3 linked regions of the Homo sapiens genome follow. The protein of the gene in region 3 purifies or fractionates together with the protein of the main gene of each other region. This does not show direct contact. Each region holds a gene or a part of one and is shown on either strand. Other genes may lie near its edges.

The links.
Region 1: the proteins of CD93 (region 3) and CNTNAP1 purify together in Homo sapiens (affinity purification with mass spectrometry; 2 studies listed by BioGRID and IntAct, with this or other methods). This does not show direct contact.
Region 2: the proteins of CD93 (region 3) and CLDND1 purify together in Homo sapiens (affinity purification with mass spectrometry; 2 studies listed by BioGRID and IntAct, with this or other methods). This does not show direct contact.

Annotation. Positions count from the first base shown.
Region 1 is NC_000017.11:42,691,554-42,699,952, forward strand, and holds part of CNTNAP1 (contactin-associated protein 1 precursor), read left to right. Parts: intron 1-252; coding exon 253-438; intron 439-945; coding exon 946-1,167; intron 1,168-1,743; coding exon 1,744-1,983; intron 1,984-3,967; coding exon 3,968-4,321; intron 4,322-4,471; coding exon 4,472-4,599; intron 4,600-5,720; coding exon 5,721-5,814; intron 5,815-6,000; coding exon 6,001-6,246; intron 6,247-6,349; coding exon 6,350-6,397; intron 6,398-7,064; coding exon 7,065-7,357; 3' UTR 7,358-8,399. UniProt on the Homo sapiens protein: Required, with CNTNAP2, for radial and longitudinal organization of myelinated axons. Plays a role in the formation of functional distinct domains critical for saltatory conduction of nerve impulses in myelinated nerve fibers.
Region 2 is NC_000003.12:98,514,983-98,521,301, forward strand, and holds the end of CLDND1 (claudin domain-containing protein 1), read right to left. Parts: coding exon 6,151-6,319; intron 4,014-6,150; coding exon 3,903-4,013; intron 2,208-3,902; coding exon 2,070-2,207; intron 1,898-2,069; coding exon 1,677-1,897; 3' UTR 501-1,676; downstream 1-500. UniProt on the Homo sapiens protein: Plays a role in negatively regulating the permeability of cells to small molecules.
Region 3 is NC_000020.11:23,078,425-23,082,913, forward strand, and holds the end of CD93 (complement component C1q receptor precursor), read right to left. Parts: 3' UTR 936-4,489; downstream 1-935. UniProt on the Homo sapiens protein: Cell surface receptor that plays a role in various physiological processes including inflammation, phagocytosis, and cell adhesion.

The sequences.
Region 1 (8,399 bases), on a different chromosome or scaffold from region 3:
CTCCAGTTTCCAAAATCTAGGCCGCATGTCACTGGTGGTCTCTAGCTGGGGTGCCCGACCCCCAGCTCCTGCTGTGATGCGATCTCATTACCCCTCTGCACCTGGCTCCTCTTTCATTCCACTCCTTAGTCTCCCCTCCGTCACCTCAAACCCTCCCCCTTTGCCCAACCTTCCCTGCCCCCAACCCCAGGTTCTCTTCCTCCTCCACCCTCCAATCTCCCTGACAAGACCTTCCTCCATCTGCTTTTCTAGGAAATTCCTGGAACACCATTTCCTTCCACACCGGGGCTGCACTACGCTTCCCCCCAATCCGTGCCAACCACAGCCTGGATGTCTCCTTCTACTTCAGGACCTCTGCTCCCTCGGGGGTCTTCCTAGAGAATATGGGGGGCCCTTACTGCCAGTGGCGCCGACCTTATGTGCGGGTGGAACTCAACAGTGAGCAGGCAGACTGTGGGAGGGCCTCGGGGTAGATGAAAGTGCTGTCTGGGGAGACAGGGGTAGGCTGGGGTTGGAGCCAAGGGCAGATGCCCTTTTGACAGGCAGCATGGGAAGGGTTGAGATACCCTATGTTCTAGCCCTCACTCGGTCTTGACGGCTGGCTGGGTGACCCTAGGCATTCACTTGGCCTCTCTTGGCCTTAAGCCCCTTCCTTGTGCCATAAGGAAGCTGGACCTTCGAGTCCCTCTCACCGCTGATTAGCCATGCTTCTAGCCTGGGAAGTGAGGCTGGGAAGCTGGCTTCAGGGATCTGTGATGTGGGGAGAGACAAAGGGTATGAGGTTTTTAAGCAGCTGGTAAGTTTCAATGCAAGCTACAGACAAATTGGAGGGATATTCAAGAAGCTCCAAAGAGGTGAGGGAAAGAGGTTATATTGGGCAAGGATCTATGAAGGGTCTTGTAGGTCTGAGTCCTTTTCTCCCCTACCCTGCATCACACTGTCCAGCATCCCGGGATGTGGTCTTCGCCTTTGATGTGGGGAATGGGGATGAGAACCTCACAGTACACTCAGACGACTTTGAGTTCAATGATGACGAGTGGCACCTGGTCCGGGCTGAAATCAACGTGAAGCAGGCCCGGCTCCGAGTGGATCACCGGCCCTGGGTTCTGCGGCCTATGCCACTGCAGACCTACATCTGGATGGAGTATGACCAGCCCCTCTATGTGGGTAAGCAGCAACCCAGAGGCAAGTCTGAAGCCTCCTTTACCTCCCCATCCTCCAAGGCCACTCGCCTTGTTTCCAGGAGCCTCCTGTCTTAGGTGCCAGTCCCCTCTGCTTCAGAGCAAGCCAGTGTCTCACTTGTCCCTCCAGGCCTTTGTATCCTATTCTATTCTTCCAGCCCTCTTGGCTCCCTTTCCAACTACAATACTTCATCCTGTCTCTGGCTCTGCCTCCATTTCTTTTCTTTTTTTTTTTTTTTTGAGACGGAGTCTCGCTCTGTCACCCAGGCTGGAGTGCAGTGGCACGATCTCGGCCCACTGCAAGCTCCGCCTCCTGGGTTCAAGCAGTTCTCCTGCCTCAGCCTCCCGAGTAGCTGGGACTACAGGCGCCCGCCACCGTGCCCAGCTAATTTTTTTTGTATTTTTTAGTAGAGACGGGGTTTCATCATGTTAGCCAGGATGGTCTCGATCTCCTGAGCTCGTGATTCGCCCGCCTCGGCCTCCCAAAGTGCTGGGATTACAGGCGTGAGCCACCGCGCCTGGCCCTGCCTCCATTTCTTGACCTGTTGCCTACCCTTCCCAGGATCTGCAGAGCTTAAGAGACGCCCCTTTGTGGGTTGCTTGAGGGCCATGCGTCTGAACGGAGTGACTCTGAACCTGGAGGGCCGTGCCAATGCCTCTGAGGGTACCTCACCCAACTGCACAGGCCACTGTGCCCACCCTCGGCTCCCCTGTTTCCATGGAGGCCGCTGCGTGGAGCGCTATAGCTACTACACGTGTGACTGTGACCTCACGGCTTTTGATGGGCCATACTGCAACCACGGTAAGTGCTGCTGGTTATGGGGCAACAGGGAGCCATAGGGTGTAATGGGATGTAGGGAGGGCAGGGAAGGAAATAGCATGTAAAGCCCATATCATGGAAAATTAGAGTTGTCCCTGGATTCCTGAGCTCTGAGTTTGGGGAGTTAGGCAGTTGAAGATCATGGGTGACTCCAAAGGCATGGACAAGGAAGGGATGGTACAGATAGCTGGTGCAAAAATATCTCAAAATCACCAAGTATGCTTTGGGAGCCCAAGGTGGGAGGATTGCTTGAGGCTAGGAGTTCGAGACCAGCCTGGGCAACATGGCAAGACCCTGTCTCTACAAAAAAAATTCTTTTTTTTTTTATGAGATGGAATCTCGCTCTGTCACCCAGGCTAGAGTACAGTGGCACGATCTCGGCTCACTGCAACCTCCGCCTGGTTCAAGCGATTCTTTTGCCTCAGCCTCCCGAGTAGCTAGGACTACAGATGTGCACCACCATGCCTGGCTAATTTTTGTATTTTTAGTGGAGATGGGGTTTCACCACATTGGCCAGGCTGGTCTCGAACTCTTGACCTTGTGATCTGCCTGCCTCAGACTCCCAAAGTGCTGGGATTACAGGCGTGAGCCACCGCGTCTGGCCAAAATAATTTCTTTTTTCTTTTTTTTTTTTGAGACTGAGTTTCACTCTTGTTGCCCAGGCTGGAGTGTAATGACTCGATCTCGGCTCACTGCAACCTCCACCTCCCGGGCTGAAGCGATTCTCCTGCCTCAGCCTTCCAAGTAGCTGGGATTACAAGTGTGTGCCACCACACCCGGCTAATTTTTGTATTTTTAGTAGAGATGGGGTTTCACCACGCTTGCCAGGCTGGTCACGAACTTCTGACCGCAGGTGATCCACCCACCTTGGCCTCCCAAAGTGCTGGGATTACAGACGTGAGCCACAGCGCCTGGCAAAATTTTTTAATTAGCTGGGCATGGTGGTGCACACTTAGGCCTAGCTACTCGGGAGGCTGAGGTGGGAGGATCACTTGCACCTAGGAGGTCAAGGCTGCAGTGAGCTATGATCGTGCCACTGCACTCCAGCCTGGGGGGCACAGCAAGGACTGTGTCTACAAAAAAAAAAAAAGCAAATCGCTTCTCCATCTTCCCACCATCACCATGGTAACACAGGCGAACTCCCTTGTCAATGTATTTGATGATTGCTGCATTCCTAAAACATGTCAATGACCCAGTTCTTGGTTAAGGTGAGCCTTGACATTCCCCATAGCAAGATCCTACACACATGCCAAGACTGCATCCTCCCTAAGGCTGGCCTATAGGGAGGATATATGAGCAGGTGGGTTACTGGTGGGAGGAGTGTGGGGGACTAGGGAGATACAAGACTTAGGGACCAACAGATTTCTGGTGGTGGTTTGGAAGTGTGAGTAGTGGCACATATACTACATGGGGTCAGGATATCCCCATCACCCAGGCTGGAGTGCAGTGGCATGATCTTGGCTCACTGCAACCTCTGCCCCCTGGGCTCAAGCAATTCTCCTGCCTTGGCTTTCCTATAGTAGCTGGGATTACAGGCATGCACTACCACACCTAGCTAAGTTTTGTATTTTTAGTAGAGATGGGGTTTTGCCATGTTGGCCAGGCTGTTCTCGAACTCCTGACCTCAAGATGATCTGCCTGCCTTGGCCTCCCAAAGTGCTGGGATTACAGGTGTGAGCCACTGTGCCTGGCCTTACTGCGTGTCTTTAAGCAAGTCACTACTCATCTCTGAGCCTGTTTCCCCATTTGTAAAATGCAGGGGTTGGATCAGATGATCTCCAGTTTCCCATGGCTGTAAGATTCTGTTCTGTGACAGAGGGGCTCAAGGGGACCTAAAAGTAAATGGAGGGTTGTGAGGGTGGCAGAAACTGAAGTAAGTCTCAGGATGTGTGTATGGATGACATAAAACCTCTGAATTGGGGAGTGAGCAGTGTGGGGGCCCTAACCTCCCTGCTTCTACCTGCAGATATTGGTGGTTTCTTTGAGCCGGGCACCTGGATGCGCTATAACCTACAGTCAGCGCTGCGCTCTGCAGCCAGGGAGTTCTCCCACATGCTGAGCCGGCCAGTGCCAGGCTATGAGCCTGGCTACATCCCGGGCTATGATACTCCGGGCTATGTGCCTGGCTACCATGGCCCCGGGTACCGCCTGCCCGACTACCCCCGGCCTGGTCGGCCTGTGCCCGGTTACCGTGGGCCTGTCTACAACGTTACGGGAGAGGAGGTCTCCTTCAGCTTCAGCACCAGCTCCGCCCCTGCTGTCCTGCTCTACGTCAGTTCCTTTGTTCGTGACTACATGGCTGTGCTCATCAAGGATGATGGTAAGCTCTCCCGGGCTCTCTCACCCCACTCCAGCTTCACCCCGGTGCCCCTAATTCTCCTATTGATTCACAAATACAAGGACCCACGTGCTGTTAGAAGATAGGAGTCATGGGGCCTGAGACCCCAAATTTCTTCTCCCCACCCCACAGGGACCCTTCAGCTGCGATATCAGCTGGGCACCAGTCCCTACGTGTACCAGCTAACCACTCGACCAGTGACCGATGGCCAGCCCCATAGCATCAATATCACCCGTGTTTACCGGAACCTCTTCATCCAGGTATGCATAGAGGGAGGTGAGCCAGTTCAGATCATAACCTCATGGTCTCCGTTGTGGCATCCAGGAAAACATCAAATACTTAATATTTGTAGATCACATTTGAATGTATAGAGGATTTTCACGTGTGTCACCTCATGTAACCCTCACAATAGCTCCAAGGGGACAATAGGCATTTTTTTTTTTTTTTTGAGATGGAATTTTGCTCTTGTTGCCCAGGCTGGAGTGCAATGGTGTGATCTCAGCTCACTGCAACCTCTGCCTCCCGGGTTCAAGCAATTCTTCTGCCTCAGCCTCCCGAGCAGCTGAGATTACAGGCATGCGCCACAACGCCCAGCTAATTTTGTATTTTTAGTAGAGACAGGAGTTCTCCATGTTGGTCAGGCTGGTCTCGAACACCCGACCTCAGATGATCCGCCTACCTCAGCCTCCCAAAGTGCTGGGATTATAAGCGTGAGCCACCGCGCCCAGCCAGACAATAGGCATTCTTATTTAAGTGTTTTACAAATCAGTAAAGAGCCTCAGAAAGTAAAGCGGTTTCAGCTACTCAGGAGGGTGAGGCAGGAAAATTGCTTGAACCTGGGAGGTGGAGGTTGCAGTGAGCTGAGATCGTGCCACTGCACTCCAGGCCTAGGCGACAGAGTGAGACTCCATCTCAAAAAAATAAAGTGGTTTACCCAAAGTCAAACCGCTGGTAAGCTGCAAAGATGGGGCTTAAAACCAGGGTTTTAAAAAATATATAGGCCAGGTGCAGCGGCTCACACCTGTAATCCCAACACTTTGGGAGGCTGAAGTGGGAGGACTGCTTGAGGCCAGGAGTTTGAGACCAACCTGAGCAACATAGCAAGACCTCATCTTCACAAAGAAAAATATTTAATAAATAAAATAAAATAATAATAATAAAAATATATATACCAAATCCTACATCTAGGCCCAGGGGTTGCCCACTTCAGATTGAGCTAGGACTCACCCAGCTGGCACCGCCAGTTTGGACAGAATGAGAGATCTCCAGTATCTGCCCCCAAGTATATTCCCAGGGTCCACACAGTTCCAGTCCAGCCCACAGGCATCTGCTTCTGGTCCCCGCTCCCTCATCGCCCTCCCCCTCCCCCTCCCCACCTCAGGTGGACTACTTCCCACTGACAGAGCAGAAGTTCTCGCTGTTGGTGGACAGCCAGTTGGACTCACCCAAGGCCTTGTATTTAGGGCGTGTGATGGGTAAGCTGCGGGTGCGGACGCGTTTTAGGCAAGGAGCTGTGGCATATGTTCCTGGATCCTCAAGGAAAGTGAAGGCCCTGGGAATGGCTGAGGGCAGTGGGAAGGATGAGTGGGAAACCTGTGGACAGTGAGAGTGGCAGGGCCTTTGGGTCCAAGTCCCTCTTTCTGGGCCTGCCTCTCTCTCAGAGACAGGAGTCATTGACCCGGAGATCCAGCGCTACAACACCCCAGGTTTCTCAGGCTGCCTGTCTGGTGTTCGATTCAACAACGTGGCTCCCCTCAAGACCCACTTCCGAACCCCTCGACCCATGACTGCTGAGCTAGCTGAGGCCCTTCGAGTTCAGGGAGAACTGTCCGAATCTAATTGCGGAGCTATGCCACGTCTTGTTTCAGAGGTGCCACCTGAGCTTGATCCCTGGTATCTGCCCCCAGGTACATTCCCAGGACACAGAGGACAGAAGGGAGGGATGACACGGAAGGGAATGATTCTTAACATGGAGGAGGCATCTCCTAACTGGTGCTTTCTCCTCTCCAGACTTCCCCTACTACCATGATGAAGGATGGGTTGCCATACTTTTAGGCTGTGAGTAGCACTGATCACTAAGCTGACCTCCCAAGACTACCCTCTGACTGTCAGCATCCTTTCCCTGCCCCTGATCCCCAAGGCTGCAGGATGGCAAAGGCACTAGATGCACAATGGCACAAAGGATGATGAGACAGGCTATGCTGAAGGTGCCATATAACTGGGCAGAGATTTTTAGATGTTTGAGGATGAGACAGGCTATGCTGAAGGTGACATATAACTGGGCAGAGATTTTTAGATGTTTGAGGATGCTACAGATTTTTAAATAAAATATTAAAATGAGACTATAGCTAAGGGATGGGAAAATGGGGATACAGTAACACCTAGAGAGATAAGAAATTGGGGTAACTACCAGGGATGTGGAAAGAGAATATTAGAAACAGAAGGTGGCAGGGGGTAAGCCAGGAATTCAAACCTGCCAGACACTTGAGATGAGTTTAGTGTGGTCGAACAGCTAACTGAGGGTCATACATTATGCTTTTGGCCAAAAGTAAATGTGTGTGTGTGTGTGTGTGTGTGTGTGTGTGTGTGCAGGTGAAATCCCAAAGTGTGTGTATGTATACAGGTGAAATCTCAAAGAGTGCGTGTGTGTGTGTGTGTGTGTGTGTGTGTGTGTGTATACAGGTGAGATCCCAAAGATCTGAATTGTCCCTTTTCTTCTTTTCAGTTTTGGTGGCCTTTCTGCTGCTGGGGCTGGTGGGAATGTTGGTGCTCTTCTATCTGCAAAATCATCGCTATAAGGGCTCCTACCATACCAATGAGCCCAAGGCTGCCCACGAGTACCATCCTGGCAGCAAACCTCCCCTACCCACTTCAGGCCCTGCCCAGGTCCCCACCCCTACAGCAGCTCCCAACCAAGCTCCAGCCTCAGCCCCAGCCCCAGCCCCAACTCCAGCCCCAGCCCCTGGCCCCCGGGATCAGAACCTACCCCAGATCCTGGAGGAGTCCAGGTCTGAATGAGTCAGAAGGGCTTCTGGGACCAATTCCAGCTCCTGACATTCCCCCAGTCCTGCCTCTCCCCCATCCTATCAGGGACATTTGGCTCCTCTTAGCTGGCTCTGCTCATCCAGAGGATATTCCCCCATCCCCCCCCCATCAAGTTTGGTGGGCAGAGCTACAGATGGGACCCAAGGGAGTGGCCGAGCCTCACTGCCTAAACCAATGCCCTTCTCATCCCTGTTTCCCCAGGCTCCTGGCTGTTTATCTGCCCCAAAGGAGAAGCCTCATGGGGTTGACATAGGTCCTTTCTGCCATCTCTGTTCCAGCTGCTGTCAGGGATTAACAACAGAGTGTAGGGGAGATTAACTGCCTCCCTTCCAATAGACACTATCAGCAGGGACAGATGTGTGGGAGTGCAGGGCTGCAGAGGGTATGGGGGGAGGAGGCTGCTAAACCCTATCCCCCAGCCTCCCCCCTGCCCTGAAGATCTTCCATTTGCTTCCACTCAGCTGGAGGCTCAAGAGGGCTTGATGGCTGTCCCCTGCCCCCCTCCTTTTGTTTTGTACACAGAGACCAAGAGGCCTCAGTTTAGCACCTTAGTACCTCCGCTGCTTCACTTGCTTTAGCCAAAGCCATAAAAAACCTGCAACGTAGAGAAAATAATGCAGATACCCTGACTAGCCAGCCCTCTACTCCTCCAACCTTTTCCAAGATATGCAATGGCCTTTGTGCCTGCCCAAAGGCTTCGCCCCCTCCAGTGCATGAGGAACCCTCTTTCCTCCGCTCAGAGATGCTGCTTCATTTACCCAGGAGGTCATATTCTTTATATATATTTTTTGTTGCAAAGTGTCTCTCTAGAGAAACTCTATATATTATTCGAATTTTTAAATTATTTGTTTATATATAAAAGAAAAGCTCAATTGGCTGTGCTGTCCTGTGCTGTGCTGTGCCCACAGTCTGTAGTTTGCCTTTCCTGTGTTGGAAGTGTCGTGAGTCCTGCTGGTCACCCACCAGCCTGGTCCGGCCTCCACTCTGAAGCAGGGTTGAGCCTGCTGTGCTCTCA
Region 2 (6,319 bases), on a different chromosome or scaffold from region 3:
TGTTTGTTCATTTAGCTTTTCTCTTTTCCACCTTCCACAGAAGGCGCTGAAGGGTAATGAATCTTCAAGAATTAAGATTAGATAGAAACCTGAGTAACCAGTCATTTCACAGGCAATAATTGGCTACAGAGTAATGCTGACTTTGTTCTAAGTCAGAAGCTGACTTGGTTATTTACTATAGAACACAAACATCCACAGCCACTAAATGACTTTACTGAAAACTAGCCACATTAAGTATGACATGTAGAGATAACAAAACTACTTTTGAGAACATGGTTTAAAATTCTGAAAAATAAAAGATAAAGATTTTCTTATTTCTAATAGGGGGAAGGGGTTCCTACATTTCCCAGAAGATCAAACAAGAGACCCAAACACAGGATGTAACGACAGCCCTGTACAGCAAGATGCACTTTGCACAGACAACCACAGAGATTGCCTCCACTTCTTTATCCTAAAGTGTTGAGATTTAAATCAATTCAGACACTCTATATACAATTGAGTCTCTTTTCATTTTTAATTTTATTTTTTAAAAAAGACATTGAGGTTATGGTAAGAAATTATGAAGTTACATTTTTTTAATCTGTCAATTGCTACAGTAGTGGAATAAATAAATAAGTTTTTTAAAGTTCAATGTTTATAGACATACTTATAAAAAAATGACTGAATTAGAAGACATTAAATAATGTTGATACACACCAGGAAGGGATTTAGGCAAGGAAAGGCACATCATATTACCACAAGAAATAAAGACCATAGTTGGAGGTTAATGGACAGCCAGAACTTTAGATCTTGTGGTAGGTTTCCCAGCTCTGGAGGGTCATTATGGTGAAACGTTCTTTATAGTACTGGGCTGGAATAAATAAATAGCAGTTGAGGAATTTTACCTTGTAACTGTAATATAATGTAAAAAGAAAGCACACTTTTAATAACCCTGGTATGTGAAGAGGAAAGAAAAAAAATCCAAAACAATTTGGTGGTACTGAAAATCTTACGGAGAGTTAAAAATAATACTAATCCTCGCCCGGCTGAACTGGAATTCTTGCAGTTACAAAGTTAAAATTTCAAGTAAACACTGTATTTTTCACTTTTTGTAGACAGACACAGTGCAGATACAAACAGCTGCCATATCTCACCTCAGATGAAGCTATGTGTCAATGCTTAGGGAAAATGATCTTAGATAATTTCCCAATTTTATAGAGCTTAAATCTTTGAAAACAGCACTAATACTGCTGGTTGACTGGCTATCTACAACAGCAAAGTGAACATAAAGTTTTGACGATGAGAGGTTTCCCAAAGAAACTAATATAGAGTTTTTAGTTGAACAGATACAGTTACTTTAGTTTTACTGAAAAGTCTAACAGACATTAGCACAACTTGTTTTCGGTCACATTCCTACTCCCAATTTTCTTTCATAAATTTGTGTCAAGTCTCTATCCATTTCTTTCTGTCTAGACCTAGATTAGTTTATTTGAAAGATGGCATCGCTTAAAGTAAACCACATAAATTTTAGTGGTATTAAGTGTGTATTTAGTGGTGAATGTGTATAAATAAAATAGATTTTCATAATAAAATGGTATATCCACAAATAAAAATTAAAAACAATTGAGAGGTGGGGAAAATATCAGTATTATTTTAAAAAAATAAAAATGGCAATTGTAAAGCAGGCAGTTTCTTGCTCATGCCACACGATATGCCTTCATTAAGGTGTACTCTTTCCGGTTGGTGTGAGCAGCCCAGATGAAGAGAGCAGAAGCCATGAACTGTAAGGGAGCAGAGACACAAGCCAGGCAGAAGGACCATCCAAATTCACCGGATACATTGTCAGGGAGCTCTAGTTTCTGGTGGAGTAGTTCAATTCCAGCAACATAACAACTTACTGAGCCCAGTGTACACAGACCTTGGGGGAAAATTTAGAAAACAAAACAAAACATGGCTGGATAAAAGCACAGTAAAGAGCTTTTCAGGCAATGTGACAGGGCAGTTAATACGTGAACATTTCAGATTTATAACTCTTTGGTCCCTAAAGAGACAGGAAGAAGCTAAAAGGTAAGTATGATGACAAAACCTACCTGCAAGGAGATGGAGAATGCCCGTGGCAATGGTGGGATATAAGCTTCGGCAAATGCAAGCACAAAGTCCGATCAAAGCCCCAAAGCACATCAAACCTAAACTCACAAAAGGTAAAAGGAACTGGCAACGCCAAAGATCTGATTTTTAAAAAGAGAGAAAAGAAATGTTACCGTGATTTCAGACCATTTTCCCCGCAATGGCAATTTCTTTCATATTCTAATTAGATCTTTTCTCAAAAAGTGTGAAAGTATTTTAACATTGAGGCCTCTTTTCTAAAGCACATTATTCAAAAGGATGCTACTCTTGTCCTGATAAAAGTAAAAGGACACTAACAGGTAGTAGCAATTACTGAGGGTTCACTATGTTCCATGCTATGTTTGTCTACACATTTTCTGTATTAATCCTCCCAACAACCCTAGAAAGTAGGTACAGTCAGCCCTCCATATCTGCAGGTTTCACATCCGCAGATTCAACTAACCAAGGGTTAAAAATATTCAGAAAAAAAAATGATACAAATTTACAAATATATAGTATAACAACTATTTACATAGCATTTATATTGTATTGGGTATTATAAGCAATCTAAAGATGATTTAAAGTATACAGGAGGATTGTGTAGGTTATATGCTAATATTATGCCATTTTATATAAGGTACTTTAGCAACCTTGGAATTAGCAGGGGGTCCTGAATCCAATCCCCCATAGCTACAGCTGTATTATTATTAATTCCATTTTGTAATTAAGGAAACTGAGGCAAGAGTCATAAATAACTTGTAAAAATAACACAGTAAGTGGTAGAGCCAGGATTTGATACAAAAATCAGTCTGACTCTACCTACCAACAATATCTAGGTCTTTATATGATCTAAAGGCAGTAACAACAAGTAAATTAATGGTAATTATAAATGACCTGTCTTATAGGGCTGTTGAAGAATATATATAAAGCACAAAGCAGAGAATCTAAAGGTAGTTTTAATTATCATAAATCTCTCATCAACATGGGAAGAAAACCTGATGACCTCACAAAACATGCCATTCCATTTTCCAATAATATTCATTATTAGAAATGCATTCATATCAATCTTGACTAAACTTTACACCTTTTGGTGCTGGTTTTGCTTTCTGGAACTTCTTATGTGTTTTTCTAACTTACTTTCTTTCAAACTCTCCTAGTAATAAACTGCTTGCTACACATTCTCTTTATAAAACTGAATACCTACCTCTTATTCAACCTTTTCTCTTACAACATGGTCATTCTTCTGGGCAAGTCCCTATAGCCCTGAAAACTGAGGCTCAAATCTGAAGACAGTATTTCATGGGCTGCCTGACCATCAGGGAATAGGTTGTTCCTAATAAATACTTTCATCTTTTTTGACATCTACCCTTTTGTTACTATCACCTAAGACTGGATAAACACTTTTGACAGGCCTGACAACTCACTGACTCATTTAGAGCTTGCAGTAAACTTTTTTCACATATACTTACCTGAACTCAAGCAGTGGAAAGTGTTTAATTCAAATATAGGAATGTATAAGTTATCTCAACTAAATTTCCTTTTACTAAATGGGCCCATTAATAACATCTTTTGAAGGTCTAGATCCCATCATCCAATGAAGTAGTTGGCCCTGTCAACTTCAAATCATTTGAAATTTGGTAAGCATGTATCTACCTTCTAAAATATCAACAGAATAGAGTTCACTGGATACTGTTAGAGATTTTATTTCACGTTGGCACAATCTACTAACTCATCTTATTCCAAAAACATAGTCCAAAAAGAGACAAATAAAATTATCTTTGTTCCCCCAACTGTCCTGGTGAAATCAAAGTACTCACAGGTCCTAAGGAGATCAATCCCGCTATTGTGGTTTCCGGGATCAACAAATTTCTCCATGAACTGCTCAGTTAGTGTGAAACTCACACATTTTGTGACCACATCAAATGACTCTGGAACAAGAACAATTGCCTGTTGTTTTAATTATAAACATTTAACAAAAATCTCTTTCAGTAATTATTCTCTGAAGTAAAACAGTAAAGGATGTTTCCAGAGGGGTCAGCAACTTCTCTGGCCCTGACTGACACACAGGTTTCATAGATGTCCAATGGATGCCACTGGTTCTCAGTGGCAGGCTGAAGACATAGGCACAAGGAAGAAAAATAAAGTGGAAGCAGTAAAATGAATGGCAGAATAGCTATGTAGAAAGCCTAGGAAGAAGGGGAGGGAACAAAGACTGAAATAAATAGGAATGTTGATCTTCTCATGCAACCGTGCTTTATCAACCATATTCCCATCTCAGGGAATGCCAAATCCACACTTCCAGTTCCTCAGACCAGAAACTTTAGAGTAATTCTTGTACATTTACACTCCATCAGGAAATCCCAGGAATTCTTCCTTCAAACTATGTCCAGAATCCAGCTGCTGCTCAGTGCTACCATTCTGGTGTGAGTCATAATCATCACTTAACCTGAATTACTTCTATAACCTCCTAACCATAGTCTTCTAGTTTCCACCTTTGTCTGCTGCCTCTGTTCTCACAACAGCCAGGGTGACCAGATCAGGGCTCAGCACTGTATCTGGAGTCAACACCAAAGTTCTCATTCTGCCTAGAGTCCTCCAGGATTTGCCCCAGTCCCACTCCCAAAGTAGGTCTTTAACAGCATACCCAACTTCCCGTCTCTCCCTCCATTCCAGCCCAGTGGCTTCCTTACTGGTCCTTGAATATTTCAGGCATGCTCCCGCCATAGAGCCTTTGCAGTAGATGTCCTTTCCAACCTAAATGACTTCCTCCCCATTTACCCATATGGCCAACTCTTTTGTCTAGTCTTTAACTACATTCTTTACTCAAGTGGTGTCTTCTCAATGAGACCTACTTTAAGTATCCTATTGAAAATCATAACCTATGGCCACCAATATTCCTTTTCCCACATATTTCCAAATCCCTTTTGTGTTCTATTTTGCCATAGCACATGTCATCTTTTAACATACTGAATAATTATTTATTCTGTTTATACTGTTATATTCTGTTCACTGCCTGTCATCCTTTATTAGAATGCTAGCTCCCCAGGAGTAAGGATTTTGTTCTTTCCTGATGTTCTCCCAGCTAAGAGGCCCTGGAACATGGAGACATGCAATAAATTATTTGTTTAATGAATGACTAAATGGTAACACTCCAATTCCAACTCCAATTTCAATATCAAGTGCTCCTGTAACCTCATAAGTCAAACTGAACATTTTACAATGAATTTTAACCAACTTTCTCTCCTTTCCTTCCAAATTATCTTTTTTTCCAGATACAGTGACATATTATCATCCTTTTGATATATCATAACTCAAGCCTGTTCTGCTATGATTTGAATACAATGCTTCCCCACTAAGGGGCCAACAGAAGTAGTCATAAATAAACTGTAAAGTTGTTCCTTACAAAGAGTTCTAAAGCTACCATTTTAATAACTGGAAATCAAAATCTTTAAGTGTTAAATAAGAATGCCTGTAAAATAAACCTAAAAATCTAGTTTTTGGTTTTTTTTTTTTAACTTCTGTAATACAAATTTCTTAACCTACCAACTCTGCATCAAGATTGTTGTAAAACAGTCTCATAATTACACAGATTAAATGTAGAGCTGGTCAAATTATATCCTCTAAGACACAGGGGCAAATGATAGATATGTATTATAATACAGCTAACCCATAAAAGGACAATTTTTTGAGTTGATTTTCGATGGTAGTCCTTTTACTAGTTACCAAATATTTTTAAAAGTCTTTCGATGTACTTTTCCAACTATTTCTTTATAACATGTGTTAGAGTAATGAAAAGTATTTTAATGAGTGAGTAAATAAGAAAAAAAAAAGCCATTAAGGCTTTCCCAAGATAAGAAAAGTTCCTCATCCAACCAATATTGATGAGTACCATGGTAATGCAAAGAAGTTGGGGAGAGAAGGCAGTAGAAAGAGAAGATACACGATTTATTTCTTTAAGGAGAGAGAGAACCAACAAACCTGCTTACATGTAATTGGGCAATCATTACGTCGTTTTGTCTATTATTAACCAGGTGAAGAAGACAGAAGTTAAAATAAGAGAAATACCTGTCCTTTCTGGTGGGCTATACCAATGCATGTTTTTGGGTATGGTGATACACCGTCTCCACAATCCCACTGTGCCATTGTATCGAAAAAGTGCATCATTATAAGTCTTTTCATCTGCCTCATCACTAATGAATTCATCCCAGATGCTTTTATTCAAATCACTGGAATT
Region 3 (4,489 bases):
AGAAACACTGGCCTCAGGTGTTCCAGTACGACACAGAAGGATGTTAGAACTGTGTGTGCTTGTGGGTGTGTGTCTTGTGGGTGTGTGTTGTGTGTGTTTGTGGATGCATATCTCTGTGTCATGCATGTGTGTGTTTATGTGTGTGGGTGTGTGTGTTGGGGGAACAGCCATGGTTGTTCATATCGAGGAATAATTTCCAAGTGTATGTTGTTAATGAATAGACTTCTAACAGGATCAGCTGCATTTAACCCTAAATAATGGATATTTATTGCAAGTGTCCTGTACCATTAGCATAACAGAGCAGAACCCTTTGTTCTTCTTAAGTCCTGTGCCTTTGCCACAGCCTTTTGCACAATCTTAAAAGCAGGCTGACTCAGAATTGACCACCATCTGCTGTTCCTGACTTGGAATCACCATGAGATTTGTGCAGCCAAACAACCAGCGATCTGATCTGCCTGTCCAATTAGTTAAATAAACTGAAAGGGCTTTGCTGACAAAGTAGTGATAAATGCTCCAATGATAATTATAGAACAGTGTTTTCACATCGCATCCATTGGACATGTTTAATTCTGCGCCAGGCATCACCCATGTAATTTACAAGATGCAGAGAATTAAAGAGTGATGAGGGGGCCATGGATGAGTGGACTCAGCTGCCATGGACACTGGGCGCAGTGCAGCCCAGCCCTCTGTATTCCATGTCCCCAAGGGCAGCACGCTGAGGGGCAGGGTACACATTTGCTGAGGTAATGAAGGAAGGCAGAGCCCAGCGCCCCCTGTCGCCTCCAGCAGGTGCAGGTGCAGAAACTCAGCCACAAGGTACCTTCTTTTTAGCAACTCTTTGAAAGGGGAGATGGATAAATGTAATGACCTTGAAAGCAAGTTCTGCCAGGTATTTCGAGTTGTCGTGAAATATATTAAAACAAGTTCACAATCAATGTGTTTAAGAGTTTATTAGGATAGGCACATAACAGAAAGCTCAAAGGACAACAAAGCTGCACCTTCCTAAAGGCTGACCCTCAAAGCACCATTTTGTTAGAACTCAGAGGAGAAGCTCGATCTCTGAGCCTTCCCTCCTCACAGTTTGGGAAACATGCACAGGATGAAGGTAAATCCTGCATAGAAATCTTGTAATTCCAGAATTAGTCAAACAAATTTGAAATACACACATTTAAAAATACTTACATTCTCATTTAGCATTCATGAAGTGATTACTGACATTTACAATTACATCTGACATCACAGAGCAAGCCTTTGCAGGGATCTAATTCAAGCTTAAGCCAAATCTATGCAAAGAACTTCAGCTCAGAGGAATAGTGGGCAAAATCTGCTGAAAAGAACTGCTTGCCACCTTGCAGATAAGAGCAACAGCACAATAAAGGGATTCCAGAGCTTCTACCTAAAATAGAAGGGCATTATCTACAAGAACAGACCAAAACACAATTTATTTTTAAACAAGCCCTTCAGTGAGTATTTGTCTCAGGAATCTAGTATGAAAATAGTGTCTTTGATTAGTGAATATATGGAGAATTCGGATTATCATCTCTATTTTTAGTTGAGAAAATGCACAAACCATATAGATTTAAACCATGGGTTTTGCAGCCGAAGTAGAGACAGATGTTTTCTGGGATCATATCTCAGATTCCCAAGCTAAAGCTATTGTTCAAGGTGATGGAAATATGTAGGGGGCATTAAACCATTTTGCAGCTGCTAGAAAGCTGTGTTTTCCTGTTTTCCTGATTTAGACAATGGAGAAGCTAAGAAGAGAAATAATAGGAAAGGCTTTCCTATGTTAGTTTTAAAAAGACTGTGTTATTTTTAATTCAATTTTTTTTTGTCAAATCTCATCTCTGTTCTCCTAGTTTTCACAGAAATATTTACAGGAATAAAGGTTGAAACAAAAGTACCTAATGATCATCTCCATCCATCGAAAGATTGCTCAGGGATAAGACACTCAAACAAGGGCTTGTGATGAGGATGGAAAAGACAAAGCAACTTGAAGAGAAAAAAAAATTCTTTTAAACTCAGTTCATCCTGCAAAATGGACATAACACATGCATATAAAGGTTTGACTTTTTAATTCCACTTTTTTGCCTGATCGCAGGGAAGATGGCATGTGGCTGGCCCTTCCTGAAGCCTTGCTCCTCCACCACTGGCTAACAGACAGGCCTCCAGGTGGCCTTGCAAGGCCGACAGTGACCGCAGCCCACTTCCCCACATCCTTAATCAGAGCCTCATGCAGTTCATCCCCACATTACCCAAACATAACGTCGTAGTGCTACACGTAGATGTGTTGCATCATGATGCTATGGCAATGACGATGACGCTTAGGTGTGTGGGCCACCGAAGGCAGAGACCAGATGTGGTTGGTCTTGCCTGGAAGCCAAGCTGTTGAGCAGGGGTGGAGTCCCTCTACAGAGGATGCTCACCAAGTTCTAATGCATTGTCGATAACTGTCCTGCCCTGGTTTTTCTGCATTCCTCAGATTATCTGTGGGAATTGTCCTCCTGCATCCTTTCTCAAATGACAAAGAAGAAAGAAAGAGCAGTGATGGCACCTGAAATTCAGGAATGAGTAGGCATGGCGAGCTGGGTGTGTGAGATGTTCTCTCTTTACATTGTCTGCTTTGAGATGTGGGATGAGGGGAGGGAGAGAGTTGGTCCTGAATATATTCAGTTTTTTCCAAGAGTCTCCCAGAATTATTGACCTATTTGGACAACAAATCTTCATTGTCTTGGTGTCCATCTCCAAGTGAAAACTTCCCCCGTCCCCATGGCCCTGGCTTGTTCTGCTGCTGAACAGGTCACCTGGGCAGAAACACTGTGTCTAGCGAGAAGTTAGCAGGTGGCAGGGTGCACCTCTCCCCATACTGTGACCCTTGGATTCCCCACTGTGCCACGCCCGAGCAAGCTGGGGCCCCTCAGGACAAGGACGATTTGTTAATGGCCTCTTGGCCGGTGGGCATTTGTTTACCCACTACTGTAGCCCCAAGATCCCCCAAACAAGAATTTCCATGCTTCAAAGTAACAGCAAAAATAAACAGGAGAATAAAGCACGTGTTTGAGCCCAGTGGTTTCCATCAGATGCACAACCTGAGCTGTCTGGTTGGGTTGCTGGCTCTCCCCCCGTGGTGGGAGTGGTGTGCAAGAGAAAGCACCACCCAGCAGGAGAGGGACCCAGCCTGCCAGGGAAGGTTTTGAGGAACTGGATTCTTTATCACCCATTTCTCCCCTTGTGGGTTCCACAGAGGGGTTCCATGACCTCCCTGTTGTTGAGAACAGGGCTGCATTCAGAGAACAGACGATGGGCCTGGGCTGTGAGAGCAATCAGAACACTGTGAAAATAGGAGGGCTCGTTGGATCCCAGGAATCATACACAGACTGCGTTGGGGCTGTGGGAAGCCAAGGACAGAAATGTCTCCTTCACCCCAAATGATAAGGGCAAGGATTTTCAAGGCCCAGAGGGAGAAATGTTGCATTTGCATTTATTTAAGTGCTGATGTTGGTCAGCAGCGCATCCAGCCATGTCTTTAGAATCCTCTGAATGGCCAGACAGATGGCTGCTCTCCACACCACAGACTGCCCAGCTTCACACATCACCTAGAGTCTCGTGGCCAAGGAAGTTTTGCCAAATGGACACAGCCTTTGTCTCCCTTAAGTGTTAAACACCAGAGTTCCAACTGAAAACTGGAGACCATGAGATGACTTTAAAAAGAAGTTCCAAATGCCCCATCGAGCCGCACAAAACCTCCATCTTTCCTTTCACTTCCCCTGCCCCTTTAGTTTTCTATTAAAAACAATCTGAACCATAGCATCTATATTTCAAAACTGGCAAGAGTATTAACCCTGCACCTTGTGGCCCTTCAACCACTCCAGAGTGTCACCTCAGAGACCGATGCATTGCTAAGGCAAAACCAGAAACACCCTTTCTCTGAGGCTTTGGGGCCTTGGAGGGAGACACATTTCCTCTGTCTGTTCTCCTGCACAGTGGTGGTAAAAAGCCCACAGGAGACATGAGGCCTCCCAGAGATACTCAGGTAACTTCTAGTGACTCTGACCATCGGTGACCCCCAGGAATGTGTTCCAGTGCCCCAGGCAGAATGGTGCCGTGTCTCTGTGTGTGTGTGTGTGTGTGTGTGTGTGTGTGTGAGAGAGAGAGAGAGAGAGAAAGAGTGCACACTATCGACTACATTATCATAGGGAGAAATATTTGCAAATGTAACTTTTAAAATGAGGATATAATTTAAATGGCTTTGAGCAGTTTTTGCTGTAAAAATGATTTTAGTTAGTCATCTCTTTCCCTCTTCCTTCCCTCCTTACCCCCAATTTTAAGGAAAAGAGACAGAGAACAAAAGTTCCTTAAGCAAACTGCCTGACTAGCTCCCTACTTGGTGTGTGCGCCACCCACACTTCAGGATTTAAAATCTCAGGATGCTGCATCAACTGTGGACTATGAACTGTGCTAAAATGCTTTAAAATGACAACTTTCAAAA